Linked DNA regions of Homo sapiens. The protein of the gene in region 1 interacts with the protein of each later gene in a pairwise test. Each region holds a gene or a part of one and is shown in the gene's direction. Other genes may lie near its edges.

Region 1 (7,575 bases):
CAGTCTTTGGAGTTAGGAATTTGGGTAGGGCTTGGCTGGATGATTCTTCTGTTCCCTGTGGCTTCAACTGAGGTCACTCAGTGGTATTCTGCTGATGTAGGGCTTTCATGACGATTTCACTCATACCAGCAAGAATCAGCTAGGTCCTCTCCTTCTCCATGTAGGACCTTTCTGGGGAGTTACATATTTTACATAGCAGCTTGGGGCTTTAAGAATAAGTGTTCTGGCCAGGCACGGTGGCTCACGCCTGTAATCTCAGCACCTTTGGAGGCTGAGGCGGGTGGCATGAGGTCAGGAGTTCAAGACCAGCCTGGCCAATATGGTGAAACCCCGTCTCTACTAAAAATACAAAAATTAGCCAGGTGTGGTGGTGGGTACCTGTAGTCCCAGCTACTCGGGAGGCGGAGGCAGGAGAATCGCTTGAAACCGGAAGGCAGAGGTTGCAGTGAGCAGAGATCGTGCCACTGCACTCCAGCCTGGGTGAAAGAGTGAAAGTCCATCTCAAAAAAAAAAAAAAAAAAAAAAAAAAAGTGTTCCCAAAGACCAAAGACCCAAACTCAAGTGGACACTTAAAGACTTTTTGTGAACTGGGATTAGAAATCCCAGAATATTGCATGTTCTATTGGCCGAGCAATTCAGTAAGGCCATCCTGGATGGAGAGGAATGATAAAAAAAAAAATTGGCAGCCACGTTTAAAGTCCCGCAGCCCAATTTTCTTTTCTTTCTTTTTTTTTTTTTTTGAGGCAGATTTTCGCTCTTGTTGCCCAAGCTGGAGTGCAATGGCGCAATATCGGCTCACTGCAACCTCCGCCTCCCGGGTTCAAGCGATTCTCCTGCCTCAGCCTCCCGAGTAGCTGGGATCACAGGCGTGCACCACCACACCCGGCTAATTTTGTGCATTTTTAGGAGAAACAGGGTTTCACCATGTTAGCCAGGCTGGTCTCGAACTCCTGACCTCAGGTGATCTGCCCACCTCAGCCTCCCAAAGTGCTGGGATTACAGGTTTGAGCCACCGCACCTGGCCTGCAGTCCAATTTTCTTACCCTTTTAAACAATTTGAACTTTGTACCTGCAGACCTTGAAGATTATTATTATTATCAGTTTAACACTGTAAATAGCATAGCTCTCAGAGTTCAGCCTCTGGCAATTTTCCCAGGTAAATGTAGGCCTTATAGGTTTATATCTTATTTTCAGAAAGATTCTTAGATTATAGCTTCGACATATGTAGCACCCCAGTGACACATATGTTGGATATTCTTTGCTTGTATTCAAATGACATTCCAAAAAGAGACAGAAACAAGCACAAAGGTGTGGAGCCAAGGGGAAGTGGAAACATTCCAGGAGTTTGTATGGTGTGTGTGGAGGAAGCAATAGACGATGGATTGGAGAGAATGGGCAAGGGCTAGATTAAGGGAAGTGCTAGACAGTGACACCAGGGGTGGTAAATTTTTGAAAGCTTTCTCTAATCTGCAGCATGGAAGATGGATTGGAAGCAGCAAGACTGGCAGGGAGACCACATAAAAAGCTGCTGCATGGCCAGGCGCAGTGGCTCACGCCTGTAATCCCAGTACTTTGGGAGGCCAAGGCAGGTGGGGATCACTTGAGGCCAGGAGTTTGAGACCAGGCTGGTCCACATGGTGAAACCCCGTCTCTAACTAAAAATATAAAAATTAGCCAGGCATGATGATGGGCATCTGTAATCCCAGCTACTCAGGAGGCTGAGGCAGGAGAATCGCGTGAACCTGGGAGGCGGAGGTTGCAGTGAGCCAAGATCGTGCCACTGCACTCCAGCCTGGGTGACAGAGCGAGACTCCGTCCCAGAACAAACAAACAAAGCTGCTGCATTAGTTTAGGGGAGGTGGGCTAAGAGGGAAAGATTCTAGTTATTTATTTATGAGGAAGCATCAATGGGACTTAGTGGTTGTTGGGTATGGAGTCAGGGCAGAGGGGTGGTGGGAGAAGAAGGAATCAAGAATGGCCCCCCAGTTTCTGAATTGGTCAACTGGGTGGACAGTAGTTTAGACATGTAGAACGTGGGGTACCTCTAGGACACCCAGGTGGAGAAGTCTGGCGGGCTTTTGTGAATAAGGAACCCAGATGAGTGGCCTGAGCTAGAGAGAGTGCACTTGGGAGTTGCTGATATGCGGTAGATAAAGAAGCGGAGTGGATGGAATGGTCCAGGGAGAATGTGTGGCGTGAGACCAGCTGAGGAGAGAATCTGTGAAACTGAGAAGTGGTCACAGGGGTTAAGACAGGAGTCATGCCATGACACCAAGGGAGTTTCAGAAAGAGTGGGCTACTCTGTTCAATGTCACTGAGAGTTCTAACAATATGAGGACTCAGAGATGGCTTGTGGTATTTAGGATCCAACAAGCCATTCATGACTGAGAGCAATGCAGTGATGTGGTGTGGACAGAAACTACATAGGTTTGAGGAGCTGAGGAGCTGCTGAGGAGGTAGAGATGAGGGTAGATGACTTTCAAGATATTTATGAAGGAAAACTCAGAGAGGGACTAGTAACTGAAGCAGAATCTAGAGGGACAGCGAAAGGGTTTCTTCCTTTTTCTTGAGGACAGGAAAAGCTTAAACATGAATAGATGATGAAGGAAAGAGACAAGTAAAGAGAAGTTGGTAATTTTGGAGTGAGAGGGGGAGAATGATTGAAAGGTGTTTGAAAAGTTTTCTGAGGATGTGGGAGGTGAAGAAATAGAGAACAGAGATGGAGAGATGCCAATACAGTGTCCTTGAAGTATTTAATTCCCTTATGGTTTAGGATTGTCTAGTCCACATATTGAAATTACCTTGGTTTCAATCAATAAACCGAACATATCAAGCGATATTTACACATTTATTTTATATTATTTACACATCTTTTCTCCAAAGAACAGAATCAATGTTTTACCCCTCTCAATGCCTTCCACATAGGGGGTGCTCAAAAAGGGCAAATAAAGAAGCTAGAGGTCTCTTACCTGTATTCTGAGTATCTTAATATGTACAAAACATAGCCAAGACCGTGCCTACAAGAGATAAGTCTCCTCAAGCATGAAAATATTCACACACTTCATATATGTAAGGTAAAAGGTAAAATGTCCATCTTTATTTATTTATTTTGAGACGGAGTCTCACTCTCTTGCCCAGACTTGGAGTACAGTGGTGCGATCTCGACTCACTGCAACCTCTGCCTCCTAGGTTCAGGCGATTCTCCTGCCTCAGCCTCCCAAGTAGCTGGGATTACGGCGTACACCACCACGCCCGGCTAATTTTTGTATTTTTAGTAGAGACAGAGTTTCGCCATGTTGGCCAGGCTGGTCTCGAACCCCTGACCTCAAGTGATCCGTCTGCCTCAGCCTCCCAAAGTGCTGGGATTACAGGCGTGAGCCTCCGCGGCAGGCCAGAAAATGCTCATCTTTTGAGGAACCTATTTGTTCCCATTTAACAAAGTTGGTTATCAGCATTTCCTTCACCATAGGAGTTTAAAAATAAAAAGAGGAGAGGAGGAGGAAGAGGGTGTTCTAAAGGCAGGCAGGCAGGCAGGCAGGCAGCAGCAGGAGGTGGCACGATCTGCCTTACCGTAAGGTGCCAAAAAGCAGTGAAAACCATACTCCCAGCATGCAGGCCTGGGGTCGCTTAGCTCTGGAGCTTACAGCCTTCATCATTGACCAATAGCCCCCAAAGGACGTTGCTGTTTTGAGTCTTAAGTAACGTTGAGAATGACCATTTGAACCATTCAAAAAGTCCTTGCTATATTCTAATTTGGCACCATCTCCTGTATTTCACAGTTTGGAAAGAATTCTATAAAAGATGGATAACAGTAAAACACAAAAAAGCTGGTGCTGAGATGGTAAACCTGGCTGCCCCGGCTCCTTTGCCCAAACTGTTTTCCCAGCCCTAATGTCCTCCCTTTTTCCTCCTAGGACTTCTTTTTCTTCCTTCGAGGTTGACCATAAATGCCGCCTCTAGCCCTCTGCGGCGTCCAAGCAGAAGTCGTCTCTAGCTTCTGTGCCAGCATCGCACCGTGGCTTGGCTCTGCACGGGTCATCGGACTTGGTTGTGTACATGGCTGTTTTCCCCGCTAAGTTTGGGGCGCCTCGAGCCCAGGCGCCGTGACCGTGATCGTGCGCCCACAGGCACCTGGTGCAGCGCGGGGCGCACGCCGCGGCTGGGCTAGCTTGCGGAGTTCACGGGGGTCACTCGGGCACAGGCTTGTGACCCAGGCGCGGAGAATGATTCACGGGGTGGCTCTTTGCATTCTTTGTCGGGTAGTCACGTCGGGCCGGGCACCCCGCCGACGGATACCTGCGGATGGAAAGACACCCGGCCCGACGCCAGCGAGCGGGAGAAGCCTGGATGGAGCCAGCTTCCCGCCTGCCCGGAACCCGCCGGCGACCGGTGGGCGGGGCGCGGCCGCGGGGGCGGGGTGGAGGGGGGTTGCTCGGCCGCTCCCGCCCCCTCCCCGCGCGCGGAAGCCACGCCCCCGGCCGCGCGCTCGCGCTGGGCGCGCGCCCGCCCATCCGCCCTCCGCCCTCCGCCCTCGCGCCCTCGCGCCGGGGGCGGGCGCTGCGCGTGCCGGGCGGAGAAGCGGCGCGAGCCGGGCGCTGCGAACGTTCGCCGCGGGGGTGGCTCCGGGGCCTGAGTAGGCGCTGCCGCTGCCTCAGCCGAGGGGGCTGGGCCGGAGCGTGCGGAGGAGTGAGGCCGCAGGAGACCTTCCCGACGACCCCTGCTCCGGCGGGGAAGTGAGCAAGGTGGGGGTCTGCGGCCGCCGCCGGGGCTGTGGGGAGACGAGCTGGGCTGGAGCCTCGCGCCCGCGAGGTGCGGGACGGCAGCTCGCGCTGCGCCGGGACTGGGGACCCGGGAGCCTGCGGGTGCGGCGCTGCAGGAGTCGGGGAGGGCGCGGGGAGCCGGGGCCGCTGCACCGCGCGCGGCTGCGAGGTGGGACGGCGCGGCTAGCCCCGGAGGGACAGGCAGAGGGGATGCGGCGGATCCCGGGCCGGGAGGGGTATCGGGGTCCGGAACGCGCCGGGGCACGGGCGCGAGCGGGGGCCCGGCGCCGGGCTGATGCTGCCCGAGCCCGGCTCGCCTGGAGGCGGCTCTGCGTTAGGTGCTGAAGGGGCGAGTGAGGCAGGTCCTGGCAGAGGGCAGGTGAGGCGGGCAGGCCCTGGCAGAGGGAAGGGTATTTATTTCAGATCACCCCAAATCACTGTTTCCCGAGGCGCCTAATAGCGAACCTGTCCAGGAGGTCACCCTGGACAGGAAAGAAGTGTCCCGAGACGAGGATGCCGGTGACGAATACTTGCCCTTAAATTCCTGTGCCAGGCCTTGGGATTAGGAAGACCTTCCAGCTACCGTAGGTAGAGACCCGTAGTCAGCACTGGGGCCACGAAATAGTATGGAACACCGTCATGTTATTGAGGTGCTGACAGTGTGGCTGTGAAGATATGCACATGAAATACAAAGGAGCGTCGAATTTTATGTCGCATGCCCTATTTACTTTCGGTCTCTTTTGTCTTTTCCCAGTATTGGGAAATTGGAGCCATAAATTGCGTGGTTTTGGGGATAAAGCAGAAAGGTCAAAAGAAGCCTATGGGAGAAATTTGGGAGAGTTTTGAAGGCTCCTACGGGTAACATTTAAAGGGGGCTCTTAGATGGGGAAAAAAGACGTTTGGAAAGAAAGGAAGTTTCCTTCCTTCCCATCTAGAAATAAGCTCCATGACTATTGACTGCTAAATCTTCAGAATGTTGCCTGGCTCACAGCGGTTGAGCCATAAGTGTCTATTGCATGAATGAATGGACAAGCAAGGTTTGGCCACATTTGCCATGGAGCAGTGTCAGTCACTCTAGTGTTAGGGAAGGTTGCTGGATTTCTCCTGTTCCACAAGTTCTCTCTCTCTGCCTCTTTTTTTTTTTTTTTTTTTTTTTTTTTTTTTGCTATGCGAGGCAACCCCGGTTCTGAGGTCTGGGCACGTTAAAGCAATGGCTAAGGCGGCGAGGTCTTGGTTTCTGTGGCCATGCTACCACTTTCCCATGTGTCTTTCATGTTGGCCTTCAAGAGCTTGCTCCTTGGCCTGTTGCTTGAGATCATCCCATTTTGTTCCTTCTCCCATTGGCTTTTTCTATTACTTGAGAAGGAAGAGGGTAGTGTTGTCTAGAGAACACTTTTTCATTTTGGTCCTGGTTCTTGGGTCTTAGACCTGTAGTGCGAGGCTGTTGGTGCCTCTGCTTTTCTGTAAGGGCTGGAATTCTACCTGTGCTCTGCCTTGGTTGAATCTCTGAACTCTGGAGCTCCAGGCTGCTGTTTCAGTAACCTGGGTTGCAGTGCCTGTTGGGTTACTTTGTCTGCCAAATTAAAACTTGACCTTTTATGAGTTCTCTAAGGATTTTTATCATGCATAAGTGGAATTGCCTTTGAAAGGGGTTGTGCAGTCAAGGTAGTGCTGGCAGAGTTTTTGGATGTCCACTATGCCCGAGAGACAAATTTCTACCTATGGTTAGAAAATTAGACTCAGAACCAAGAGAATTTCAACTTATTGTTTATTTTATGTCTTTATGTTACTCTCTCAGGGCCTTAGTTTCTTCGTGTGAAAAATAAGTAATAATCAAAATCTGGCATTGTATAGGAAGCCTTGAAGAAGTAAATTTATTTCTCCTGTTTCAGGGCTGTACAGCCAGCAGGTCTCTTGTTGAGAGGTGCCTAGGTTCTACAATATTGGGTGCCTTATTCCAGGCTCTCTCAATGATATTTTGTTTATGTATTTATTTTAAAACCAACTTTTTGACGTATAGTTGACAAAATAAAATGCACAGATTTCCCGTGTGCGGTTGGATGAGTTTTGGAAAAATGTGTACAGTAGTCCCCCCATTAGCCTCAGGGATATGTTCCAAGAGCACCAGTGGATGCCTGAAGCCACAGTTAATTCCAAACCCTATATAGACTGTTTTTTCCCTATACTTAAGTATCTATGATAAAGTTTTAACTTATAAATTAGTTGCCATGAGAGATTAATGACTTCTCTTAGGCATATGTTTGGCTTCTCTGTGGCATATCCCAATTGCCAGCATCACTACTCTTGCACTTTATTATTAAGTAAAACAGTGGTCACTTGAACACAAGCACTGTGATACCATGACAGTCAATCTGATCATTGAGACAGCTACTAAGTGAGTAACCAGAAGGTGGCTTATGCAGTGTGGATATGCTGGAGAAAGGGATAGTTCATATCCCAGGTGGGACAGAGTGGGATGGCACAAAATTTCGTCACGCTATTCAGAATGGTACACAACTTAAAACTTACAAATTGTTTATTTCTGAGGGGAGACTGCTGTATACTTTGTAACCACCATTCCAATCAAGAAATTTCCATCACCCCAGAATGTTCCCTTATGCTGGTTTGCAGTCCATTCTCTATCTTCCCTACTCCCTTTTATTGATTTCGAATTACACGAGCATCAGAGCTGTGGCACCTAGTTGTGTAGATTGTATTCTGCCCAGCTTTAGGGAGCACCATTCACATTGGAGTCCTTGTGCCTGGCAGCTGCTGGAGTTGTGTAGTGCACACTCTGTGTGACTGTGTGCTGCAA
Region 2 (5,797 bases), on another chromosome or scaffold:
GACTGCCCAGGCAGCATGCAGATGAGAAGCAGGGAGGCCCCAGGACGGAGTAGGGACCAGCAAGGATGCCTGGGAGGGAGTGGCCAGTAGGCTGGGGGACACCAGGCGAGTATGGTGGCCCAACAACCACTTGAGAAGGGGGCTGCAGTCAATGCCCTGGCCGGCTGGCTTGCCAGCTGCTGAGAGACCAGGTCAGAGGGCCAAGGAGAGGCATTGGGATTTGGGGAACTGGAGGTCGGTGGTGGAGTGGAGCGGTGGTTCCAGACACAGGCCACCCTTCTAAGGAGTGTGGCTCTAACAGGAGGACAGGAGGACATGGGCTCGGGACAGGAGGTGCTTCTTAACGTGACAAGGCCAGGCCCCTTACCTAAGTGGACACTAGTCCTGGGGCCCTCTCTGCAGGGTTGGTGCACATGAGGAAACTAAGGCATGGCCAGCTTGAGTGGTTTCCCAGGTGACCCAGGTGGTGTCTCGCAGACGGAGCCAGAACTCAACCTCGGGACTCCGACTCCAGCAGCCCCGGGCCCTGGGTGGCCAGAGTGCTTGCCTCCACCTGTTCGCTCTGCCAGAGTGTCCCGTGAGCATTTCCTCCCCGAGCCAGCAGCTGCGGCTGCTCAGGAAAGGCTCCCAGCTGTCCCAGAGCTGGCCACCTCAGACATGGACAGCCCAGGGGCTTGGGTACTCAGCCAGGTGCCCCAGGGGCTATGGGCATGGCACCGGCTTCCCAGTGGCAGCCACTCCTGGCTGTGGCTGGTGGGGCTCAGTGGCAGACCTGGGCTGGCTGGGCAGTGCCTGCAGCCCTCTGGTGCCAGGGGCAGCCGGTCGACTGGGGTCATACAAGGGGTCAGTTCTCAGCTCTCAGGCAGCCGTGCTGTTCTGTTCCTAGGAGGCCCAGGGAGGCACTGAGAGGGGTTTGGCGACTCCGACGCCCTCCACCGTGTAGGCCAAGTTGGGGGCACCAGCCTTCAGTGAGGGAGGCTCCAGGGCCGTGGTGGGGGGACAGAAAGGTGCCTGTGTCAGAGACAGCCTTGCCTGGACAGCAGGATGCCTGGTGCTGGCTGGGTTGGGACTGTGGCCAGCCCTTGCCAGGAGCAGCCATGGGGCAGCTCAGGTGGGTCACTGGGCCTCCGGGCCACCCCAGGGCTAGCTGTCAGAGCCCTCGCAGTGGGGACCCCGGAGGGGCGGGAATGCAAGCCCCAAACACAGGCACATGCAACAGAGATTTTCAGTGGCGAAGCCACACCCCTTGAGTCCTACTGTTTGCATCTGTTTTCAGCTCAGGAGGCTGAGCCAGCGCCCGCCTGGGCCTGAGGTCACACACCTGCCCAGTCCCTGCCCAGCCCTGCAGCCACACTGTTTCCAAACCACACTCTGGGAAGAGGGTTGTGAGCAGCAAGTCTGAAGTGCGGGGTGGAAGGTGCTGGGGGTTCATCCTGCCTCCCATTCCTGCCTGGCACTCCCACCCCGTCATCTTTGGAAGGACGCCGAGAGCCTGAGGGACAGGGACAGGGAGACCAGGCCTGCTCTACGAGCCTGGGGGAGCTCAGGGCCATTGGGGCTCCTTCTTCTACCACTGCCCCCCACCTTGTGGGAGGTTCCCATCTTGGCAGTGCTCAAGGGCACCAGCTAGGGCAGCGGCAGGGCCCTCCATGCTCCGGCAGCCCCAGGTCAGAAAGAGGCTCTCATTTTGCAGGCAAGAGTGTGGAGGCCAGAGAGGGCCGGAGCCAGCAGTGGGTCCTTGTCCTGCTGAGCGCACAGCAGGCCCTGTGCACACCACTGCCCCCGCTGGCCACTTGGCGCTGGTCAGGGCGGCGGGGCCTTGGCTGGGGTGAATGGCGCCAAACGCCTTCTCTTGTCTTTTAGGAGCTCTATAGGAAGGACTGCAATCTAGCGGCCCAGCTGCTGCAGTGCAGCCAGACCTACGGCAGGGTCCACAAGGTGTCTGAGGTAACGTGGCCCCGCAGCCAGGCCCACCCCGCCCCGGGACCACCGGGCTCCTTTTGTGCCAGTGCTACCCCAAAGCCATTTCCCATCTTTGAGGAGGAAGATGCCAGCTGAGCCTGAGCCTCCTCTGTCCCCCTCGCTCCTGTGGGGTCATGACATTGGAGGGGCCGCCAAAGGCACCCCACCTCACGCAGCCGGGCAGCCCCTGGCCCTCACCAGAGTCCCTTTGGCCCACCCCGGCTGCTGGTTGCCCTCGGTTTCCTTTGGGGGGCTGCTCCAGGTCCTTGCTTCCACTGAGCGCTGACACGGCAGAGTGACCTTTGTGGAGCTTCGCAGGAGCCTGTGGCTGGGCACGATGACCGGCAGTGCCTATTTCAGAAAGAAAACATTCAGGAAAGAGGGCGTGGCTGAGGCCACGTGGCAGGCAGGTAGCAGAGCCAGGACCCAGAACCAGGCCTGTCTGATGCCAAGGGCAGATGGGCCAGAGGCCCACCCCTGCCCGCCTATGGTCGCCGCACCCTGCGCACCCCGTCCCCCGACCCTCCCCTCACATGCAATCTCCCAGCCAGGCCTGTGCGTTCCTTTCCCCTGGTCCTGGGCCATGCCTGAGACACTCACAAAATAGATCAAACAGTAGCGGGACACCCCCACATGGCACCAGGCGCTCTCAGCCCTGGCCCTCAATCTTTGTTGCATCTGAGTCTGTCTTCTTCAGGAGCGCTCCAGCAGCATGACTGGGGGGCTGGGGAGTGGGTCATGCCCCCAGTAGAACCCACAGAACCCACGGGCCTGGGAGAGCAAGTCAACCCCTCGCTGGGCACAAAATGGGTGGGGTGGGGGTGGCGGGGGGTGGAGCCTTGAGTGGGGCCTGAATCAGACCTGGGTTCCGGCTTCTCCAGGCGACTGCAGCTTCTGGGCTCTCCTGGGCCCAATCAGAGTGGGGTGGGGAGAGGTGACCCAGGATCCCCAGGCAGTCACAGCACCCACACCCCTGGGAGCTTGTTCAGTACAGCGTCCTGGATCCAGGCTCCCCCTGGTGTGATTTGAGAAGCCGGGAGGCCCCCGTTCGTCTGTCTGCCTGTCGGTCATGGCTAACATCAGTCCTCAGCTTCAGGGCCAGGGCTGGGCTGCCATGCTAACAGTGACCCTGTACCCGCCGTCCCCCTCCTCGCACCCGTTCCAGCTGCCCTCGGATTTCCAGGAGCGCGTGAGCCTGCACATGGAGAAGCACGGCTGCAGCCTGCCATCCCCGCTCTGCCACCCGGCCTACGCCGACAGCGTCCCCACCTGCGTCATTGCCAAGGTGCTGGAGAAGCCGGACCCCGCCAGCCTGTCCTCCCGCCTGTCCGATGCCTCCGCCCGCGACCTGGCCTTCTGCGACGGGGTGGAGAAACCAGGCCCGCGGCCCCCCTACAAGGGAGACATCTACTGCAGTGACACAGCCCTCTACTGCCCGGAGGAGCGGCGGCGAGACCGGCGGCCTAGCGTGGACGCGCCCGTGACCGACGTGGGCTTCCTGCGGGCCCAGAACTCCACTGACAGCGCGGCCGAGGAGGAGGAGGAGGCCGAGGCGGCGGCCTTCCCGGCGGGCTTCCAGCATGAGGCCTTCCCCAGCTACGCAGGCTCACTGCCCACGTCCAGCTCCTACTCCAGCTTCAGCGCCACGTCGGAGGAGAAGGAGCACGCGCAGGCCAGCACGCTGACCGCGTCGCAGCAGGCCATCTACCTGAACAGCCGCGACGAGCTCTTCGACCGCAAGCCACCCGCCACCACCTACGAGGGCAGCCCTCGCTTTGCCAAGGCCACGGCCGCGGTGGCGGCCCCGCTGGAGGCCGAAGTGGCCCCAGGCTTCGGGCGGACCATGTCACCGTACCCGGCCGAGACCTTCCGCTTCCCGGCCTCTCCGGGTCCCCAGCAGGCCCTGATGCCCCCAAACCTGTGGAGCCTGCGGGCCAAGCCGGGGACCGCCCGGCTCCCCGGGGAGGACATGAGGGGCCAGTGGCGTCCCCTGAGCGTGGAGGACATCGGCGCCTACTCCTACCCCGTGAGCGCTGCCGGCCGCGCCTCACCCTGCAGCTTCTCTGAACGCTACTACGGCGGGGCCGGGGGCAGCCCGGGCAAGAAGGCCGACGGCCGCGCCAGCCCGCTCTACGCCAGCTACAAGGCCGACAGCTTCTCCGAGGGGGACGACCTCTCCCAGGGCCACCTGGCAGAGCCCTGCTTCCTGCGGGCGGGCGGCGACCTGAGCCTCAGTCCCGGCCGCTCGGCTGACCCACTGCCCGGCTATGCACCCAGCGAGGGGGGGGACGGGGACAGGCTCGGGGTGCAGCTGTGTGGGACCGCCAGCAGCCCTGAGCCCGAGCAGGGTTCCAGGGACTCCTTGGAGCCGAGCTCCATGGAGGCCTCCCCGGAAATGCATCCTGCCGCCCGCCTCAGCCCCCAGCAGGCCTTTCCGCGGACTGGTGGCTCGGGGCTGAGCCGCAAGGACAGCCTCACCAAGGCCCAGCTCTACGGAACCTTGCTCAACTGAGCGCCTGCGTGCAGGCCTGGCCGTGGTTCGCTCCCCGCCAGCCCACGTGCCCCAGAAGGGCCGGCCTCACCTCTCCCCAGCCCCCGCTGTTCCCCTGCCCCGGCCAACAACGAGGAGTCTGTTCCTCCCCGCACCTCCTCTCCTCCCCAGCCCTGTAGGCCTGAGGGGAGGGTCCCCCACACCACGGTGTCCACCCGGCCCCGGCCCGTGGAACTCCACTTAGAGCGTTTTTCACGCGTCCTTCCCCCATGTGAGAGGAGCATCCCCCCTTTTATAAAGCGAAACTATTTTTATAGAGAAAAAGGGTCTTTCTTAACGCACTTGGCCTCCAGCTCCCTGGACGGCTGCCTTGGCGTTTTCAACACAAAGCTCCTTTATTTTTTGGGCGAGGGTGCGTGGGGCCTGCCCCTTGGAAGGGAAGGGAAGGACGGTGTCCTGTGGAGACCAGACTCTGCAAGTGGGGAGACCACCCCCGCAAGCCAGTGACAAGGGAGCCCTGAAGTTGTGTCCACGAAGAGGGAGCTGAAACAAATTCGGGGCTATGAAGTGTTTTAAAAATCCATTCTTCGCAGTGTGGCCACCACACCGCCCTGAGCCCTCCCACGGCCCATCGTCCCGGGTGGGCCGGGATGATGCCCCAGTGCGGCCGGTGCTCATCTCCGCCCCCGGGTCCGCCCCCTGACACCGTCTTACTCTACCTCAGACATGAGGAGGCCCTCCATTCCTGGTTTCTGTAGCTTGCATTCTTGTTGTCTCTGATGCATGCCCTGCCAGTTAGTACTGTATTTTGCATTCATTAATAAAAGACACCGGTGGAAAGAATCTGGGTTGGGCTGTTTCTCCTCCTCCTGCCTTTTGGTCTCGGGAACCTGGGGTCCCTGGTGTCCCTCCCCAGCCTTGCTCTCTGCAGCCGAGTTGGGCCCCTTAACCCCACTTCACACCCCATCCCCATAACACCCCGTCCCCACCCCGCCATCCAAGTTCCTATCTAGGGTGTGGATTCTCCTGCTTCTCCCAACCCACTGGAGACAACAGCTCTTTCATCCCATTCTCCTGCGCGCTGCCCCACCGATTTCCTGGCCCCTAATCCTCGTGTCTCAGACTTGGCTTCTGCTCCTTGAGATGTACTGGGGCCACGGATGGAATGTCGGCAGGTGGCCTTTTCCCGGGCACACGGGATGCTGCCGCTCTGCTCTGTCTTCCTGTTGGTATTGGGAACTGGCTGTCAGTCCCGGAGCCGCTCCATTGGTTAGAAAAAAAAAATTGCTTTCTTTTCCCCGGCTCTTTAAGATTTTCTCTTTGACTTTGGCTTTCTGCAGTTTC
Region 3 (7,026 bases), on another chromosome or scaffold:
AGTGATGAGTGGGGAGCTGCCCCTCCACGCACCCTGTGGCCCCAGCCACCCACCCACTGTGCTCACCCCTTCCCTCCTGGCAGGTATCCGCCCCCAGATCATGAACGGCCCCCTGCACCCCCGCCCCCTGGTGGCGCTGCTGGACGGCCGCGACTGCACTGTGGAGATGCCCATCCTGAAGGACCTGGCCACTGTGGCCTTCTGTGACGCGCAGTCGACGCAGGAAATCCACGAGAAGGTGGGCCCACCCTGCCCGGCCGGGGCCTGCACTGACCTTGGGCAGTTTCCTCCCCAGCATCCCCCCATTAGATCGCCCCAAGTCACCGGCAGGCCCCAGAACCCCTGTTCCCTGCTTTCCTGCTGAACTCCTCTGCCTCAGGTTCAAGGGTGATAGGGCCAGGGGGCCAGGCCAAGTGGTGCCGGTGGGCTGCACGGGGTGGGGCTCCGACCCTGTGCTCTGTTCCCACGCAGGTTCTAAACGAAGCCGTGGGCGCCATGATGTACCACACCATCACCCTCACCAGGGAGGACCTGGAGAAGTTCAAGGCCCTGAGAGTGATCGTGCGGATAGGCAGTGGCTATGACAACGTGGACATCAAGGCTGCCGGCGAGCTCGGTGAGTGCGAGGCAGCGCTGGCTGCCTGGAGTTGTCCGGAGCTCTGTGGGCCCTGCTCGGGTGGGCTTGGAGAAGCAGCTGGAACTGGGACCACGGAGCAGCCGCTTCTGGCTGTAGCAAGGTGGCTGCCTCCAGGCCGGGCTGTGGAGCACCTTGCGGCCCTGCCTTCACATGACACAGGTAGGATAGTCCCTGCTGGCCCTTGTGTGGGGTCTGCGGGGCTGTGAGGCATCTCTGCCCTCAGAGCAACACCCAGCTGGCACAGGCTCAATTTGGAGACACCCAGTGCCGCCTCCAGAGGGGAGAATGCGACTGGCCACATGTCCTCTAAACCACCCCTGCTGGGTGCGTCCCCTAAATGACCCCTGCCGTGTGTGTCCCCTAAACTGCCCCTGCCGTGTGCACAGCTCTAGGCCCCTGTCCACATGGGAACCTGGGCCTCCCGTTCTGGGAGGGCAGCCTTAGCAGCATGTGGTCCAGGTCAGCACCAAAGCAGGTGGGCCCCTGCCCAACACAGTTGATGACAGAGGCTTCCGAAGAAAAGCAGAGGCAGCAGGCGGGAACCCAGAGTTGGGGGCTTCAAAGCTGCTTATCGGCCCCATGCACTTGCGGCTGGGGGTGCATGTTGAGGGGGGCCTCTGCCCAGCACCCCGTGTGAGCTCGTGAGTGCTGAGTGCAGAGGCACAAGAAGCAGACCGCTGGCATCGAGCGTCCTCGGGAGAGGGCCAGGTGGGCACTGTGCTTGCTCTGTGTTTGGAACACGCCACCCCTGCATTTTGGGGGTGGGGGCTGTACTCTGCCTTACGAGTGCTGAGGTGCCCCAAATTCATGAGGCACCATGAATTCCAAGGCAGCAGCCTGGCCTTGGAACAGCTCTTCCTGTGCTCCAGGAATAGCCCAGGCGCTATTTCCCCACCTCTCTCCCATCGGCTAAGGCCCCAGTGGGCCCCGGTGCTTCCGGGACGGGCTGGGTGTCAGATGGGCTCTGTGTGTGAGCGGAGTGTTACATACATCTGAGAATCCTGCTCTCGGGCACCACCGGCCACGTTTTCAGGGAGGCCACCCCCATGGGCTCCAGCTGTCTCTCCACAGCCTTAGCCTGGGGCATGGAGTGTATGGGTCAGAATCTTAGTTGAATCCTTCACGGCCAGTCGGGGCAGCACCCAGGTACCGGAAGCACTGGGTGGGTCTTGGTGTCAGGAGCAGGGCTGGGGAGCCGGGCGAGCAGGGAGCTGCCCGTACACTCACAGGGGTCAGGACGCAGTGGGGTGGGGCTGCCCCACGGGCAAATCCCAAAGCAAAAGGCCAGGGAAGGAGAGAGAGTCACTCAGATTCCACACCCCTTAGGGTCCTGGAAGCAGCAGCTTCACACATCCACCCCTCACCCTCCCCACACCCCTCACTTGCTACCAGCCACGGCGTCCTTCCGAGCCCCTCTGTTGGAACAAAGACACTCCAGAAGATGTGAGTCTTCAAAGGCGTGTTTAATATAAACTAAAATTTTCCATCTTTCCCTGGCACAAACAAGGATATTTTTGTTTGAAAACAAATGTCCTTTGTGCTCTGGGTAGAGCTGAAATCCCAAGTTTCAACAGCAGAGGAGAATACAGCTTCATGTGCCAGGGGCTCTCAAATCCTTGTCCCCCGCACCTCTTGCTTCTCCAGCACGTCGGCCCCTCACCACACAGCTCCCAGGCCCATACGGGTGCTGACCCTGCCCTTCCTCGGCTGGACCAGACGCTGCTTTCCAGGGAGAGAGGGGAGGTCCTTGCCTGTGGAACTTCCTATTTCTCCATTTCTAGAAGTGCCCCGCACAGGCAGTGGGGCCAGAAAGGCACCAAGGCCTCAATGACAGGGGGCCTGGGAGGGCCGAGATGGGAGGTTGTGTTCCCTGAGTTCTGAGACCCACAGAAGACGACCAGGACCAGGGACTGCGGTTTTGGAAAATGTAGAAGGGCTGTGAGTGGTGGATTTTCATTGATCCTGGTCCCATCTGATAAGGGCGCTTGGAAGACATCTGCGGGGCCCTTTTAAAGGGCACTTTTCGAATGTAGACTCTGGAGGCGGAAAATGAGCCTCTGTCCAGACGTCCTTTGTCTCCGAATGCATATTCCCCACATCATGCGGTCAACGGGCCTTTTGTGCTGAGGGCTGGGAGCGGCAGGTGGCTGCAGGCAGGCCCTCTCCTGATGAAAGAGGGTCCCTCGCAGGCCCAGAAAACAAGGCCCTCCATGTTGCACGAGGCAGCACACTAGGCCTCTGGTGACACCTTCTGGGATCGCAAGGCTCTGAGCTGTCAGCCCTGGAATGACAGGCGAGAGTCAGCGCTTCACGGCAAGAGCAGGGCAAGGCTTGAGGAAGCTGCTCACCTGCACTTCTCCCCACGAGCCGGGAAGACCTCGAGAGGGCCCTACACCCCTCCCCACCCCCGCCGCCTCTAGCAAGCTGGTTTATGTGGTTTCCTTGCCAGCGGCAGTCATGAAGGGATTAAAGCACGATGGCACTGACCGTGAGAGAAAAGCAGCTTGCCTCTTTGGGGCCGTTTTCCAGGCTCCGTGGATGCTGGGAGGCCCAGCCTGCGAGTATCAGAGCCACCCATCGTGTGGCACTTGAAGGATCAGCTTGACTCATCCAGAAGGGAGGCTGCATCCACAGAGCGATAGAGGACAGCTAAGAAGATGCTCCCTCCGAGAGAGCGGTGAGGGTTATGGAGGTTCCTGGCAGTGGCGCCGCCGCGGTCTGGGTGGGAAGGTTCTGCCATCCCAGGCAGTGGCTGCAGCTCTTCCTCCTGCACCATCTCCCCGTCCTGGGACTCTGCACTCCGGTGAGCAGTGGAACCACGGAGCTGAATGTCCAAGTTCGGTGAGAAGACTGACCAGATGTCCTGCCTCAACCTGCCTTTTTGTGCCACCCACCCACCCGGGTGCCTTTACACACGTGGCCTTGTGGGGTCTCCCAGCCAGCATCAGCTCATCTCCTAGGAGGAGGTGCTGCTGTTGACGCCAGGCAGCACTGCCGAGCCAGCCCCGGCAGCAGCACGGAGCCAGCGTCCTTGAGGGTGATTCTGCTGCGGGGCCTCCCTGCTGGGCTTTAGCCTGCCCGAGGAATGAAAATTGTCCCAGCCGCCAAAGATTTTCTTGAACCTCTGGCATCAGCCTCAGTCTGTCTGACTTAATAATAACATGGCATGTGATCAAGCCCCAGCTTCTCTGCTGAGCTATTTCAAATGAATGAGGCCAGTTTCCTGCAAGATTCCTGGCATCCAGCTCGTGGGAAAGTTGGTCGGCCTCAGTCACCGTCAACCACACTGGTCCCTTGGCAGGGGTCGGTGGCCCAGAGGAGCCCTCAGTGGCCACGTTGGGTGGGTGGGTGACCTGCTCACAGTGGCTTCACCTTCTCTGAGCTGTGTGTCTTGCTAAGCGGGTCACTCTCAAGGCCCTAGACCTAGGGGTGGCCCTTGTGGGGAGACAGCCACGCAGCCATCTAGAAAGTGGGTTTGTGGCACCCACTGGTCTTGTTTCCTGTCCAGTAGAGCCGAAGAAGCTGCCTTGGTGATTGCCGTCCCCACCCCAATCTGTCCCCACCCCAATCTTCAGGACTTAAGATAGAGGAATCCTGGGCTGCCTTAAAGGTGGCCCTGTCCCAGTGCCTTGGGCACCCCTTGCTGGGAGAGACACTCTCCTAAGGGTCCCAAAGCTGGGATTAGGAGGGAACCATTTCACTTGGGCTGACGTGATGCCCAGATAGCCACACCCCTCCTCAGAGAGCTCAACTGGGAGCCACAGGCTGGCTGCTGAGCCCACCCTCTGGGGCCCCGCCCCTGGCTCGGCCCCTCTGGTCTCTGCTGCAAGCAGGCCTCTGGATCTCCACCTGTCGGGTGTAGGGAGGGGCCGTTCCCAGCCTGGCCCTCTGCCTACTTGCACCCCTGTTGTATCTGGCAGTCATTCATTCTTCCCCAGACACCCTCTGGCTGAGGAGGGTAAATGGCAGGGCCCTTTCTGCCTATGACTTGGGTTAACTCTCCATGCCACAGCTGCTTTGTGCTGGGAGATACTTGACCCTGGTCTCTGCAGCTCGTGTGGGGCCAGAGGGCTCACCCCAAGCCACCCTCGGCCCTGACCTGAAGGCTGCTCCACGGGGCAGGGAGGGCATCCTGTCTGCTCTGAGTTCTTCCCAGCAGAGCAGGGTGCTGAGCACATGACCACAGGGCGATTGTGCACACGCTTCGGCCATCGGTTCCGTTCCCGGGGCCAGCCCTTGCATCCGTGTGGGGGTGGAGGTGTTTTTTTAAAACCAGTATGTTTAAAACGTATGTTTTTTGCATCAAACTGTTAGCATAGCTTAAAACCAAAAGCCATTCTTTGTCACCCTGCCAGCTCCATGAGGGAGACCCTGAGGGGTTTGAGGCTGAGTGGGGTCCACTTGGAGGAGTCTGGTCTGAGGCCCACTGGCTTCCTGCCACTCCGGGTCCTTTCTTGGGACTCAGTGCAAGCCCAGGAGGAAGCCAGTCAGGCCCAAAATCAGCCATAGGAGTTGGGTTGGTCATGAGCCACGTCCTGGAGCAAAAGTCCTCCTTGGGAGGGAGGGGTAGATGTTGGGGCTAGAGCTTCCCATGCATCAGAGCCAGAGGGCCTACCGCCCACGTGCCCAGCCCCGCGTCTGCTAGACGATAAGGTGGGCCTCCCCCGGTGCCAACAACCGAGTCTCAGGAGGGCGGGCTGGGAGCCCTGGGGCTTCCCCACTGATCTTGAGGTTTTCTCATCTCCGGCCTTGGCCTCATCCCTTTCAGGAATTGCCGTGTGCAACATCCCGTCTGCAGCCGTGGAAGAGACAGCGGACTCTACCATCTGCCACATCCTCAACCTGTACCGGAGGAACACGTGGCTGTACCAGGCACTGCGGGAAGGCACGCGGGTTCAGAGCGTGGAGCAGATCCGCGAGGTGGCCTCGGGAGCGGCCCGCATCCGTGGGGAGACGCTGGGCCTCATTGGCTTTGGTACGTGCCACCCTCTGCGCTGACCCCCAACCCCTCCGACACTGGGGCTGGTGTAGTGGGGACCCCTCGGGAAAGGCAACCCCAGCCTGCTCTTGAGGAGCCAGGGCAGGCAGGGCCAGCACCCTCCCCGTGTTGCACGGGGTAGGAGATCGGAGTCAAGACCCATCAGGCAACTCACCCTAGAGGCAGGATCTGGGCTGGTTCTGGAAGAATGCGTGTCCACTGCTGTCTGTAGTGTCTGGCAGGACAGCATTCTTTGCTGTGGGGCAGCGGGCAAGGCGCTGTGCCCAGTAAATTTCCCTGGGCAGGGGTGAAGGGCAGGGGCTGTATGGAGGTGTGTCGTAAAGCAGCAGCCAGGCTTGGGGCTCGTGTAGGGGCTGGCGTAGGGTTCAGTGGAGACGCGGGTTATGGACATGGCCTCACTCCTGAAGGCCTTCAAATGCCAGGTTGGGGTGGCACAGTCAGGCCATCAGCTTGGAAAGCTCTCCTGAGAGAGGGGCAGGAAAAGGAGACGTGAGGAGAGGCCCAGGAGGGTCTTCAGCAGGGTGGTAGGGGCCGGTGCCACGGAGAAGGTGATGGTAAGCAGCCTGATTCCATGGGGGCTCGAGGAGGTCCCCACCCTGCTCACCATCAGGGTCCACACCACACCCAGGAGACCTCGGCCCATTGCCACTGAATCTCAACCCCACCGCTTACCAGCTCTGTGGCCTTGTGGGAATTACCTGAGCTTTTTGCCTCAATTTCCCAATCTGTAAGTAGATATTTGGTGGGATACGTGGTATCTGCCTTTTGGGACTCCAAGAAGGCGCATGTGCACACGGGGCCAGTAATGTTCTGGCCTCCGGGAGACTCCCAGCTGCTGCTCAGCCCTTGCTTGGAGCTCCGCGCCTCCGAGGACGAAGCCCCCGTGCTCCTCTCCCCACAAGCCCCGCTCTGGACCTGGGGTGCCACTTGAACAAGAGAGAAGTTGCTGGACGCTTCCAGGAGTGCACACCTTTCTGTCCCCGCTACAGGCTGTGATCTCCTGGGTCTGGCCTCGCCCGACGCCTGGAGTCTGAGTTGAAGTGTCGGGTGCTGGGGATCTTCTGAAAGGACCCACCGTGTTTTGACTTTGTTGGAAAACAGATGTGGTGTGTGAACACCAGGCTCCCTCTGTCCGGGCCCCACTGGGCCTCATGGCTCGGAGATGCAGCTTCATCTCCATCTCTGAAGCCCCTCCTGGGGCCTCGGTGGTCTCTGGCCAGGCTGCAGAGCCTGGGGGTGGTCATGAGCACCCTGGGTACACGGTGGGGCCTCACTGGGGAGGTGCTTGTTTCAGGGGCTTCTGACTCCAGCCGTCACGGGACTTCTTCCTGGGGTCGTTCCTGTAGCTGTGCCCTTGTCATTCAACTTTAAAAACCCTCTCGGTGTATAG
Region 4 (7,026 bases), on another chromosome or scaffold:
AATTGTGCTGGGACATTTTGTTTTCCATATTTTAAAAAGTATATAAATTTTTTAAAATGTCATCTAGTTTGTGCATTTACCCTGTCATATTTGCACGGCAGTAAAACCTCCTGCTGGTGTATTTCTCTAAGCATATCCCCATTGTTACGTGACAAATGACTTTATATATGGAGAATAGAACAGAAGGTCTCTAGATTAAAAGACACTGAGCATAGTTGAGGACAAGAGGGACTAAATAAAAATACACTAAATACGGCCAGGCACAATGGCTTACGCCTGTAATCACAGCACTCTGGGAGGCTGAGGTGAGGAGTTTGAGCCTGGGAGTTTGAGGCTACAGTGAGCTATGATCATGCCACTGCACTCCAGCCTGGACAACGTAGCGAGACTTTGTCTCTACAAAAACTTTAAAAAGTACTAAATATCATGAAATACCTCTCCAAGCCTTTACCCCTACTTGGCTCCTAGGATACTGACAGCCTTGCTTACGTTATACTCTCTAGAGTGGTATAATATGGGGAATATGATTAACTCAAGAAAAAAAAAAAAGATACAGACTTTAGACCTCCAATTAAACAGCCCAATCAGATCATCCTGTAGTGAGGCTCAGAGTTGGCAAGCTTCATACATACACGGTTTCTAGTCATTGTAGAGATCCACTCTGAAGGGTGAGCAGCAGTTAAAGATGATAGACATCTGACCCTCTATATAGACCTAAATAAATAGGAAAAAGCAACTTGAGGCCGGGCATGGTGGCTCAGGCCTGTAATCCCAATACTTTGGAAGGCCGAGGCTGGATGATCACTTGAGGTCAGGAATTTGAGACCAGCCTGGCCAACATGATGAAACCCCATCCCTACTGAAAATACAAAAATTAGCTGGTTGTGGTAGCGGGCACCTGTAATCCCAGCTATTCAGAAGGTTGAGGCATGAGAATCGCTTGAACCTGGGAGGTAGAGGTTGCAGTGAGCCGAGATCGTGCCACTGCACTCCAGCCTGGGTGACAGAATGACATTCTGTCTCAAAAAGAAAAAAAAAAAGGAAAAGAAAAAGCAACTTGAATGAAATGGAGATAATACAGAGAGATACGAACTTATAAAAATCATTAAGCATATCCTTAAAGAGATAAAAGATAATACTGTAGCCATGAACAAAAACAAGAAGGTGTAAAAAGGTAAACATTCAGAGAACTAGAAACAGCACTTGGAAATAAACACATCATGGCGGGGAAAAGAAAAAAGAAAAACCAAAGAGTTGATAATAGGCCAGGTGTGGTGGCTCATGCCTGTAATCCCAGCACTTGGGAGGCCAAGGCAGTGGATCACCTGAGGTCAGGAGTTCAATAGCAGCCTGACCAACATGGTGAAACCCCATCTCTACTAAAAATACAAAAATCAGCCAGATGTGGTGGCAGACACCTGTAATTCCAGTTACTTGGGAGCCTGAGTCATGAGAATCACTTGAACCCGAGAGGCAGAGGCTGCAGTGAGCCAAGATGTGCGCCATTGCACTCCAGCCTGGGGGACAAGAGTGAGACTCCATCTCAAAAAAAAAAAAAAAAAAAAGAGGAGTTGATCAAGTTGAAATATTTCAGAAACTAGAGCAAGTATAGAAATAGATGTGACTGGGTGCTGTGGCTCACGCCTGTAATCCCAGCACTTTGAGAGGCCAAGGCAGGTGGATCACAAGGTCAGGAGATTGAAACCATCCTGGCTAACATGGTGAAACCCTGTCTGTACTAAAGATACAAAAAATTAGCCGGGTGTGGTGGTGGGCACCTGTAGTCCCAGCTGCTTGGGAGGCTGAGGCAGGAGAATGGCGTGAACCCGGGAGGTGGAGCTTGCAGTAAGCCAAGATCGCACCATTGCACTCTAGCCTGGGCGACACAACAAAACTCTGTCTCAAAAAAAAAAAAAAAAAAGAGATGCAAGAGTGAAAAAAACAAAAACAAAAACATAGAGGATCATCAGTTCAGGACACCCTCTGTCCAAGTAATAGGATTCCCAGAAAGAACAGAAAAATACTGGAGGATAATCATCAAAGAAATAATTTTAAAAAATCTCCCAGAACTGAAGAACGTCAGTTTCCAGATTGAAAAGGCCCATCAAGTGGCTAACTCAATAGATGAAAATAACCCACACCATGGCAAATTGCTGTAAAAACAGAACACTGGGAACAAAGAGAAGATCCTAAAAGCTTTCAGCAAGAATGGGAAAAGGGTCACATACAAAGGATCAGGGATTGGAATGGCATTAGATTTTTAAAGGCTAACACTGAAAATTAAAAGACATGGAGGCTGGGTGCCATGGCACATGCCTCTAATCCCAGCACTCTGGGAGGCCAAGATGGGCAGATCCCTTGAGCTCAGGAGTTTGAGACCAGCCTGGGCAACATAGTGAGACCCCATCTACAAAAAAAAATTTAAAAATTAGCCAGGTGTAGGTACATGCCTGTAGTCCAGCTACTTAGGAGGCTGAGGCAGGAGGGTTGCTTGAGCTCAGGGGATCAAGGCTGTAGTCAACCATGATTGTGCCACCACTGCACTCCAGCCTGGGCTATAGAGTAAGACCCTGTCTCAAAAATAAAATACGACAATGGAACAATGCCTTAACCCCTGAGGAAGAATTATTTTCAACCTGGAATTCTATATCCTGCCAAACTATCAATAGTGTGAGGAAAGATTAATAACTTTTTAAAAATAATTTCAACTTTTATTTTATCTTTTTTTTTTTTTTTTTTTTTTTGTGACGGAGTCTCGCTGTTGCCCAGGCTGGAGTGCAGTGGCGCGATCTCGGCTCACTGCAGGCTCCGCCCCCCAGGTTCACGCCATTCTCCTGCCTCAACCTCCCGAGTAGCTGAGACTACAGGCGCCCGCCACCTCGCCCAGCTAATTTTTTGTATTTTTAGTAGAGACGGGGTTTCACCGTGTTAGCCAGGATGGTCTCTATCTCCTGACCTCGTGATCCACCCGCCTCGGCCTCCCAAAGTGCTGGGATTACAGGCATGAGCCACCACGCTCGGCCCTATTTTATCTTATTTGAGAGAAATCTCATTCTGTCACCCAGGCTGGGTGCAGTGGCACCACCATGGATCACTGCAGCCTTGACCCCCCAGGCTCAAGCAATCCTCTCACCTCAGCCTCCCGAGGAGCTGGGTCTACAGGCACATACCACCACACCTGACTAATTTTTAAATTTTTTGTAGAGACAGTGTCTCACTCTGTTACCTAGGCTGATCTCAAACTCCTAGACTCAAGTGATCCTCCTCTCTTGGCCTCTCCAAGTGCTGGAATTACAGGCAAGAGCCACCATGCCCAGCCCAACTTTTATTTTAGATTCGGAGGGGGGTACCTGCGCAGGTTTGTTACATGGGTATATCACATGATTCTGAGATTTGGGATACTGTTGAACCCATCACCCAGGAAGTGAGCATAGTACCCAACAAATAATTTTTCAATCCTTGCCCCCACCTCTCTCCCTCCTCCAACAGTCCCCAGTGTCTATCATTACCATCTTTATGTTCATATACCCAATGTTTAGCTCCCATTTATAAGTTAGAACATGCAGTATTTGGTTTTCTGCTCTTGCATTAATTCACTTAGGATTATAGCCTCCAGTTGCATACATGTTGCTGCAAAGGACATGATTTCATTATATCTTATGGATGTGTAATAACATTTTAAAACATGCAAAGCTTCAATAAATTTACCTCTTATGCCAACTTTCTCAGGATGCTACTAGAGGGAAAGAACCATTCACCCAAATGAAGGAGTAAATGAAAAAAGAAGATATGGAATCTAAGAAACGAGGGATCCAGCTAAGGAAAGAGGCAAAGGAATTACCAAGATGATAATGGAGGGAGATCCCTGGAGGGCAATTGTGCAGCAAGGACAGATGGAAGCAGAGCAGAGGGCTCCTTAAGAGATGCCTCTCAGAAGATGGAATAGATAGAACGTGTCATGCATTCAAAAGCCTGGAGAGGGAAATTCAGAGAATTGAGGGAGTGTTTGAGGTTGACTTGCTGATAACTACATAGCAAACTAGGCAATATAATAATAATAATAATTCTAAGGATAAAATGTTGTAAGAAATAAAAAGTAACTATAGTAAACTACATGGCTTAGCTGTGAAGAGCATTTCCAAATCCTAATAAAGTAAACACTGAGTAATTTTATTGCCTATTAGGAGGATGGAAGATGGGAAGGGTATCTGTATGGCAGGGGAGTGGGGAGTGGGATGAAAGTTAAATCCTGCCTGGGCGTGGTGGTTCACGCCTTGTAATCCCGGCACTTTGGAAGTCCAAGGTGGGCAGATTATTTGAGGTCAGGAGTTTGAGACCAGCCTGGCTAACCTGGTGATGCCCTGTCTCTACTAAAAATACAAAAATTAGCCAGGCGTGGTAGGTGATACTTGTAATCCCAGCTACTCAGCAGGCTGAGGCAAGAGAATCGCTTGAACCCTGGAGGCGGAGGTTGCAGTGAGCTAAGATGGCGCCATTGCACTCCAGCCTGGGCAACAAGAGAGAAACTCTGTCTCAAAAAAGAAAAAAGAAAGTTAAGTCCCTAATCTTATATAGTGTGGGAAATCAATAGAAAATGCCTGAAATTTAAATACCAAGAAATAGCAATATAAATATGGAGATTAGGAGGTAAATACCAAAATAAACAACTAAATAAATAATAATAGTTGTTTCTGGGAAGTAGGACCAGGATGGGAGAACTGTTCATGTTCATAATCTTGTGGAACTGTTTGCCTCTTTAATCTCTGTGCATCTGTTACTTTGATTAGAAATAAAACTGGGCTGGGTGTGGTGGCTCACACCTGTAATCCCAGCACTTTTGGAAGAATTGCTTTGAGCCTAGGAGTTTGAGACCAACCTGGGCAACAAGGTGAGACCTTGTCTGTACAAAAAATAAAATTAGCCAGGTGTGGTGCACGCCTGTGGTCTTAGCTCCTTGGGAGGTTGAGGTGAGAGAATCGCTTGAGACCAGGAGATGGAGGCTGTAGTGAGCCATGACTGTGCCACTGCACTCTAGCCTGAGTGACAGAACAAGACCCTGTCTCAAAAAATAATAATAAAAGTAAAACTAAATAAAACTAGTTTTAAAAAGTCATTTGTGGCAGCACCTTGGGTTCACAGAGCAGAATGCTAGAGGCGAAACTATAGAGATGGGCGAGAGCCACATGTTACAGGCTTTTGAATGCCAGTTGCTAAAATGTTTAGATTTCATTCTCTAAGAGGAGGGCGGAGTTCCCTGCTATTGTAGATGTTCGGATTCGGCACTCTCTAAGAGCAGTGCAATGCCTATAAAGGCTCTTGAGCAGGGAGAGACAGGTTCAGACTTGTGCTTAGGGAAGGTAACAGTGCATCTGAGCTGGAACGGACGCTTGAGATTACCCTGTAAGTCAAATTTACTTCCAGTACAGACAGGTAGACTGGTGTGTACAGGCAAGAAGGCCTGAATGCCCAGCCAGTGGGATTCTGATCCTTCTAAGCTCTGGCCAACCCTTTCCCCTCTCGGTGGCTGCTACCAATGCCCTGAAAAGACTAGGGAACCAGGTTAGCTCTCTTTATTCCCCAGCTCCTGCCTCCTTTTGGCCCAATCTACTTCCTGATTAACACCCTATCTTGCTATTCTTTGTTTCTATGTCTTTCTGGTGAATATGGGCAGGCTCAATAGTCAGTACCCTGTGGCTGGGCATGGTGGCTCATGCCTGTAATTCCAGCACTTTGGGAGGCTGAGGTGGGCGGATCACCTAAGGTCAAGGGTTTGAGACCAGCCTGACCAACATGGTGAAACCTGTCTCTACTAAAAATACAAAATTAGCTGGGTGTGGTGGTACACGCCTGTAATCCCAGCTAATTGGGAGACTGAGGCAGGAGAATCGCTTGAACCCAGGAGGCGGAGGTTGCGGTGAGCTGAGATCGCGCCATTGCACTCCATCCTGGACAACAAGAGCGAAACTCCATTTCAAAAAAAAAAAAAAAGAAGTACCCTAAATATGAAGTTCAAAGCTTAATAGGATTGGATTTTAATACTTAACATTTACTGAGACCTTCCTCTGTGCTAGGCACTGTGCTGAGTACTTAATAGACAGCATTTCAGAATCCTCACAGCTACCCTGTGAGGTAAGTGATTTAATCCTGTTTTACAAACAAAGAGACTGAGGCTCAAAGAAGATATGTCTAATCAGTGGTAGAGCTGAAATGTTAGGCAGCAGTCTGTCTGCTTCTGAAGCCTACACTGCAAGCCGTTATAATTCCATCCGTCTTAAAGTGAAACATGGTTGGCTGAACCACAAGGTAGTGGCCTGTGGAAACGCTGGGGAAACCCATGCCCCAGAACTGGGACTAATTCCTTCTCCCACTCCCCCAGGCTTACCTGCGAGCCATCGATGTGAAGATCCTGCAGCAGCTGGTGACCTTGAATGAGGGCATCGAGGCAGTGCGCTGGCTGTTGGAGGAGCGGGGGACGTTGACCAGTCATTGCAGCAGCCTCACCAGCAGTCAATATAGCCTGACAGGCGGGAGCCCAGGCCGCTCAAGGCGAGGCAGCTGGGACAGCCTGCCAGACACCAGCACCACCGACCGGCTGGACAGTGTCTCTATTGGCAGCTTCCTGGACACAGTGGCCCCCAGCGAGCTGGATGAACAGGGCCCACCTGGGGCTCCACGTTCCGAGATGGACTGGGCAAAAGTTATAGCTGGTGGAGAGAGGGCCAGGACTGAGGTGGATGTGGCAGCCACCAGGCTAGGGAGCTTGAGAGCTGTGTGGAAGCCCCCAGGGGAGAGGCTTCAAGGTGGACCACCTGAGTCACCAGAGGATGAGAGTGCCAAGCTGGGCTTCGAGGCCCACTGGTTCTGGGAGCAGTGCCAGGATGATGTGACCTTCTTGTAACAACTATTCCACCCTTTTGTAATCCTGTGGCTCTTTTATCCATTAGATGTGGTCTCCCCCAAAATTGATTCTCCCTCAGTCTGAGACTAGGAAGAGGCTGCACTGAAATCAGTTACCATGGAAACCTG

What was found.
Region 2: the proteins of DTNB (region 1) and BEGAIN interact in binary tests that used the Homo sapiens proteins (3 or more experiments, as listed by UniProt).
Region 3: the proteins of DTNB (region 1) and CTBP2 interact in binary tests that used the Homo sapiens proteins (3 or more experiments, as listed by UniProt).
Region 4: the proteins of DTNB (region 1) and LURAP1 interact in binary tests that used the Homo sapiens proteins (3 or more experiments, as listed by UniProt).

Annotation. Positions count from the first base shown.
Region 1 is NC_000002.12:25,670,553-25,678,127, reverse strand, and holds the start of DTNB (dystrobrevin beta), read left to right. Parts: upstream 1-4,550; 5' UTR 4,551-4,742; intron 4,743-7,575.
Region 2 is NC_000014.9:100,536,646-100,542,442, reverse strand, and holds the end of BEGAIN (brain-enriched guanylate kinase-associated protein), read left to right. Parts: exon of another isoform or gene 1-1,863; coding exon 1,864-1,947; exon of another isoform or gene 1,948-2,313; intron 2,314-2,823; exon of another isoform or gene 2,824-3,127; coding exon 3,128-4,474; 3' UTR 4,475-5,296; downstream 5,297-5,797. UniProt on the Homo sapiens protein: May sustain the structure of the postsynaptic density (PSD).
Region 3 is NC_000010.11:124,996,550-125,003,575, reverse strand, and holds part of CTBP2 (C-terminal-binding protein 2), read left to right. Parts: intron 1-83; coding exon 84-238; intron 239-471; coding exon 472-616; intron 617-2,081; exon of another isoform or gene 2,082-2,918; intron 2,919-3,124; exon of another isoform or gene 3,125-3,724; intron 3,725-5,405; coding exon 5,406-5,612; intron 5,613-7,026. UniProt on the Homo sapiens protein: Corepressor targeting diverse transcription regulators. Functions in brown adipose tissue (BAT) differentiation. Isoform 2 probably acts as a scaffold for specialized synapses.
Region 4 is NC_000001.11:46,213,323-46,220,348, forward strand, and holds part of LURAP1 (leucine rich adaptor protein 1), read left to right. Parts: intron 1-6,376; coding exon 6,377-6,898; 3' UTR 6,899-7,026. UniProt on the Homo sapiens protein: Acts as an activator of the canonical NF-kappa-B pathway and drive the production of pro-inflammatory cytokines. Promotes the antigen (Ag)-presenting and priming function of dendritic cells via the canonical NF-kappa-B pathway.